Regions from separate parts of the Homo sapiens genome. Here region 1 is reported to be linked to region 2. The links are microRNA targets in miRTarBase. Many come from high-throughput screens and were not tested one by one. Region 2 holds a microRNA gene; the other region holds the end of a gene's coding sequence.

Region 1 (3,081 bases), not on the chromosome of region 2:
AGCTGGATTCTTACCTCCTAATGTAATTCTAAAGTACCAAATTAGACATGGGTAGAAAAGCAATGTATCCTTTATGTGTATTTGTCTCCAAAATAAAACAGTAAAAACTTGAGACAGATTTAATATTTTGTCTCAAAAATTCACTAGCTGGTACCTGTGGTCACTTCATCTGAATCTACTTGAGGAAACAGAGGTCTGCGTATTTGGTGATGTCATGGGGGTATCCAGGCACTTGGTAATGTCACAGAGGGGATTTATGCATTTGGCGATGTCATACCTGGTGGTGGGGGGAGGTCTGTTCACTTGGTGATGACATAGAGTCGTTCGACCTAGGCAGAAGTTTTACATTCTGTCGTTCACTTTAAAACTATAATGGTCTGTAATGGACCCCAAAGCTCTATTTCTAATTTTGCCACCAGGGCCCACATCCCTGTACTTTAAAATGAGAAAGGGTTTAAGGATACCAAATGTTTTGGTAATTTAAAACTACCAAAAAAAAAAAAACATAGAAGGAATAAGACCTAGTATTTGATAGCACAACAGAGTGACTATAGCCAATATTAATTTAATTGTACATTTTAAAATAACTAAGAGTATCATTGGATTGTAACACAAAGGATAAATGCTGCAGGGAATAAATACCCCATTTTACATAATGTGATTATTACACATTGCATATCTGTATCAAAACATCTCATGTACCCCATAAATATATACCCCTACTATGTACCCATAAAAACTAAAATTAGGAATTAAAAAAAATCACTAGCTGCTACCTGCAGTCACTTGATCTGTGTGCTTGAGGAAAGAGAAGGAATTGGCTTGATGCTTCTTACCCAAAAAAAATTATTTGTGAACACCAATCCCTCCATCCATGTAAATGCATGAACATTAACTTAACAATTTTAGCTCTTACTGCTTTTCCACCTGCGCCTAGTGAGTAGTTAAAGATGTAATTTACAGGACTTTAGATCTTTCCCCTAAGAACTCTTTTTCTTTTTCTTTTCTGTACTTATCTTAATATCGTTAAGAGATGGCAGCCAAGGGTAAAACTGAGTCTTCTTGGGCTGACTATGATGAAAATGCCAAGTGTAATCTGAGCACAGCCCTGAACTTGGGCTGGTAGCCCTTCTGTCCACTTTATCTACTGGGAACTCTTGGGACACCCTGCAGAAGGAGCTCAGGCTGGAAGCAGAAACAACCCATCTGAGCTAAGAGAAAGAATTTAACCTTTTTAAAGGCAGCCTGTTATGCCTGACAGAATAAACTTACCTTTCCTCACTAAAACTGTCTATCCTTCACATTCCAGGAATCCCTTCTAAAAAACATATTCCATGCCCTTTTTCAAGAGAATCCAGCCAATCATTTCAGCTCAGACATCTCTCCCATGTAAATGCTGGAAGCTATCCTCCAAGCCTTTCCTTTTTCTATAGCACTTGCTGCTAAGGATAATTATATGGTTTCTCATCAACAGAATGTAAATTCTCCCAGTGCCCATGAATACATACTGGCCCAGAGGAAAACAGGTGAGAAATATGTCAAAAGAACTTGTAATACAAGCCTTCATATACATGGCAGGGGAAGGCCTGGTGCCTCCTTTTCTTACAAAATAGGAAAAATAGCACCTAAACCTGCAGGTTTGTTGAGGCTCACACTGTTTAGAATGGCATTGAACAAACATCTGGCACAGGAAATGCCCATTATAAGTCACCTGTTTCCATTTATGTCTCAATCTCAAATGTGGTGAGACGTGCCACAGCGATTAGTATGGCAGATTACAGGGGCTGATCCCCATCTTTTACTCACAACCCTGTAACTGTTTCTTCTTGATAAAGTAATGGTGATAGATAGGGACACTACACACAAACCATTCATGGATTCTCCCCTAAGTCTGTGCAATCGTCCGTATATGTATTAAATCTAAAAGCAAAAAAAAAAAAAACCAATCAAATAAAATGCTAAAGTGTATTAAAAGTTGTCATAATGCAAATTTTATTTTGATTAGTTTTTGTGACTCCTTTATCTTAAACCCAGCGATGCTTGCCACTTCCCAAGGTGTAAAAATGTGAAGATTAAGGTAAACTGAATGTCGAGGAGTGTAAAGAGATGGCAAAACACAGATAAAAACATCCAAAAAGCCTCTGGGGGCAGGTCAAGCTTATGATTCAACAGTTAGAAAACCAAAATTACTTGGACATCCCCTTCTACTTAAAGTGATATACTGGAATTGAAAATATTAACTGTTAGTTTTAGAAACTAAGATTACTTGAAGTAGGCTCATTCCAGAATGCTTTTCTTTTTTCCTTCCTGAAACAATTACATCAAACTTAGATATCCTAATGTTTATTTTTAGATATACTCCTTAAAGGCATTTATGTTCACCCTTTTCGAGGATGAGAAATTTACATTAACTAATAAACTTAACATTGATCTTAAGAACTGGTTTTTGATAAGACTAGTGTGACAGAGGTACTAGTAGAGCAAAAAAGCAGGATTCCAGATTTTATTTTTTAGAAGATTGAAAAAACACACCCAGGACAACATTTCTTTGATCAATAAACTTTCAGGAAATGGAGGAAGCTGTTTTGGGACACATTCAAAGCTAGTTAACTTGAACTTGGAAATAGGGTTTTGACAATCCAACTATGGGAAACAAATCTCTGAACAAATTTTAAATGAAACCTCACCCCCCCAAACTGTTCAAGTGGCAGACAAAATAAATTACCATAAATTATATGCCAACACACCTTTTAAAAAACAACAACAGCAACAACAAAAACCCAGGAGTCTGAGGATTTCCTTAGCTCCTCCAGGAAGTGTGTAACACTGCTTCTGGCCTGCAGGCTGGGGCGGATCAGGGACCTGTCACACGTCAGGATAGTTGCAGTAATATACCGCGGAGCTGGCGTCGGACACCACCGAGGAAATGGCCCCGTGGCTGTCGGGGAGATTCACACCGGAGTCATGCCCCTGGTAGGGGAGGCCCATCTCAGGCTTGCACACGAAGTGCAGATACTGTTCAAATTCCGTGCGGTCCACCTCCCCGAGGAGCTCGGCGGGCTGACTGGGGTCCGTGCCGTC
Region 2 (3,081 bases):
CCCTTCTGTGGCCCCAGGCAGCTGCCGCCTCCCTGGGGTGGCACCCACTGTCTGTTCCCCACTAGGGACTGGCCCTTGCCCTCAAGTCTTGGAGTCAGGCAGGCTCTGGCCCAGCTCTGGGAACTGATTAGTAACGCGTTTCTGTGCCTGGACGGGGGCCAGGCGCCAGACCTTGTGCACGGCCCAGGACCAGGGCGTGGTCCTTAGTCCTAAGCCTGGGAAGCCATTAGCGGGCTGTAGGCTATTAAGGGGTTTTAAGTATCAAGGGATATAATCAGATTTGTGCTTCGAACGGGTCACACAGGCTGCTGTGTGGGCAGGAGGCAGCTGGGGACATGGGGAGGCCCAGGCCATTGGCTTGGACTTTGCAGGGAGGTGACAGGGCTGGAGAGAAGCGAGTGAGACAGGAGGGGAGGGCTGAGCTGTGTAGAACTGGGCGGCAGCTGGGAAGCCAGTGCCAGCCTGGGTTGCAGGGCAGGCCTTGCATCTGAGAGAGACACCCAGGCAATGGCAGGGGGCAACTGGATTGTCAAACACAGATCTCAGAGAAACCTGGAATCACTGGCCCAGAGGTAGATGCCAGGCCTGGAAACACCAGGCTGGCCAGGGGAGACAAGATCAAGTTAGAAGTTGGCCCCATGCCAAACGCTGGTTAGGGCCAGTAACAACAGCCACACAGACCAGGAGAATCCAGCAAGCGGGGGTGGCCAAGGCCACAGGAAGGGCCAGTGGGACACCTCGAGCCTGAGAGATCAGTTCAGAGGCAGCTTCGAAACAGCCCTGGCTGGGGGCTGGGAGTGCCCTGGCTGAAGCTGCATTAGGGGATTATGGGGGTTGAAGACAGGAGTTGGTTTGAGAAAGAACAGGAGACTAAAAACACAGCCAGGGAGTGTGGGACCCCGGCCAGCCTCGGAGGGGGGGACAAGGTTCAACTTCTCTTTAAATTATTTTATTCAAGAAGTGGGGGAGGACAGACAAGGGGACTGAGCTGAGCCCTGAGTCCCTGAACCTCCCAGCTCAGCCCCCACAGCAGGACTGGACTCAAAGTCAGAGGGTGGAGACTCCAGCCCCACCCAGACACGGTTGGGGACAGACAGGACCCAGGAATACCGACTGACTGTCCTCCAGGGGATGGCGGCCGCAGCACACAGGGCCCGGCCCGTGGACCGCCCGGGTGGGGCTATTTGGGGGTGCCGCCGCCCTTCTTGGGAGTGGTGGGTTTCTTGCCCTGCCAGAGGTGTCCCTGGATGGTGAAGGCATCGACGCTCATGGACATGGTCTTGGCGGGGATCTGGGTGAAGCGCTTGCGGTCCGAGTTGTACTTGTAGATGCCTTCCACCATGGCGGGCGTGACGGTCCGGGGCCCATACCCTGCCAGCCGCGACAGCTCCTCTGTCTCCCCCGACAGCGTGTAGAGCGCCCGGAACTGGCAGCTCGAGTCGCGAAAGAGGATCAGGAAGTGGTTGGCCTTGCTTTTCTCAATTTCCTGGGCAGGAGTGCTGGAAATGGTCAGCTGGCCAAGTCAGGCCACCCACCCACCCACCAGCCCCCAACTCCCACGTGTGGGCGGGCTCACCTCCAGAATGCGATTCTTCTGCGGTTCGTTCACCTTGCCCGCCAGGCAGCAGTGTGATAGGGCATTGTGGATGATGAACTTGTTGGACTTGGCGCTGGGTTCTTTGTACAGCCGTGGACCTAGAGGGTGAGGCAGTGGGAGGGGGTGGGGGGCAGCAGGAATGAGCAGGGGCTGTGGAGGAGGGTGCCTGTTGCTCCTCACATCACCCAGAGCCCCTGCTTACCTGTGTACTCGGGCACTGACGCTGGGGAGGAGGCATTGCTGCCATTTTCCCAGTCCCGTTCGCGGCTTCCAGGCAGGCGGCTTGGGGACATGAGACCTGACGGGGAGGGAGCCCTGCAGTGGGAGAAGGATGGGATGGAGGTGGGGTCAGGATGGGATGGAGGTGGGGTCAGAGATGGGAAGCTTCCCTATGTGCAGAGGGGCCAAGGAAAATAAGGGCCACGGCTGGGCATCGTGGCTCATGCCTGTAATCCCAGCACTTCGGGAGGCCAAAGCGGGCAGATCACTTGAGGTCGGGAGTTCGAGGCCAGCCTGGCCAACATGGTGAAACACCGTCTCTACAGGCACGGGTAACCCCAGCTACTCAGGAGGCTGAGGCACGAGAATCACTTGCACCCAGGGGGCGGAGGTTGCCGTGAGCCAAGATTGCGCCACTGCACTCCAGCCTGGGCGACACAGCAAGACTCCCTCTCAAAAAAACAAAAAAAAAAAAAAAAAAAAAAAAGGCGGGCCACACACACTGCAGAGGAGGCGGTATACACTGCACACCCTCCCAAGTCCATGCAGTGCCCCGTGCTGTCCTCCTCCCACAGGAACACCTGGCACTCAAGTGCACTGAGGCACATGCTTGAGTCCTGTCTGCCAGGTACAGACTATGCCCCATGCACACGTGCCCACACGCGTCCCTCCATCTCTTCATGGCGTATCCATAAACTCGAGCCATACCGCCCTCTAGGTTCACCCAGATGCCCACACACCTCCCAGGCTCTGGGAAGCCACCCGGCATACGAACCCCGCCTGTGCGGGCTAAACTCACCGAGACGTGGGCCTCTTCACCCCGAGGTTATTGTGGGCCTCGTTGGCCACAGTGGACAGTGACAGGGTGGACTGGGAATAGATTTTGCTCAGCCGAGAGCCTGGGGACAGAGATTGCAGGTCAGTGCCCACCAGAAGCCCCTGCCCTCCACAACACCCGGTCCAGCAGGCTGTGGGGGGAACACAGGAGGAGTCAGTCCTGCCCAAGACCCCTCGGCCCTCTGCAGCACCCCTATGGGGGGACCCCTCTATGAGGGAGGATGCTTTGCCCAGCAGGCAAGTGGGGAGCAGCACTGGGTCAGCCCCTACTGGCAACGCCTCACCCCAAACATACTCCCAAAGGTTCCTATCCATGAAGCCACAGAAGAAAGACCCCTCATCCCACTGCACCCCACATCCCTATGGAAGTCTTTTTTTTTTTTTTTTGTCTTATTTCTGAGACGGAGTCTCGCTCTGTTGCCCAGGCT

Evidence for each region. The annotated mature microRNA hsa-miR-6792-3p reads CUCCUCCACAGCCCCUGCUCAU and lies in region 2 at 1,737-1,758, opposite strand. An mRNA with a match to its seed (bases 2 to 7 or 8) in the 3' UTR can be bound and repressed. Matches are read on the target gene's strand: a 7mer-m8 pairs with bases 2 to 8, a 7mer-A1 pairs with bases 2 to 7 and ends in A, and an 8mer does both.
Region 1: the mRNA of SOX17 is a reported target of hsa-miR-6792-3p. Seed matches in the 3' UTR shown: 7mer-m8 at 2,806-2,812.

The regions. Positions count from the first base shown.
Region 1 is chr8:54,459,780-54,462,860 of GRCh38, reverse strand. It overlaps SOX17 (SRY-box transcription factor 17), which reads right to left. Exons shown (of 2, transcript NM_022454.4): 2 at 1,969-3,081. The coding sequence ends at 2,866. Among named protein-coding and RNA genes, the nearest start is that of SOX17, 3.4 kb to the right of the region's middle.
Region 2 is chr19:7,616,157-7,619,237 of GRCh38, reverse strand. It overlaps MIR6792 (microRNA 6792), which reads right to left and starts at 1,799; the gene lies at 1,733-1,799. It overlaps CAMSAP3 (calmodulin regulated spectrin associated protein family member 3), which reads right to left. Exons shown (of 17, transcript NM_020902.2): 14 at 2,616-2,715; 15 at 1,800-1,912; 16 at 1,577-1,695; 17 at 934-1,486. The coding sequence ends at 1,181.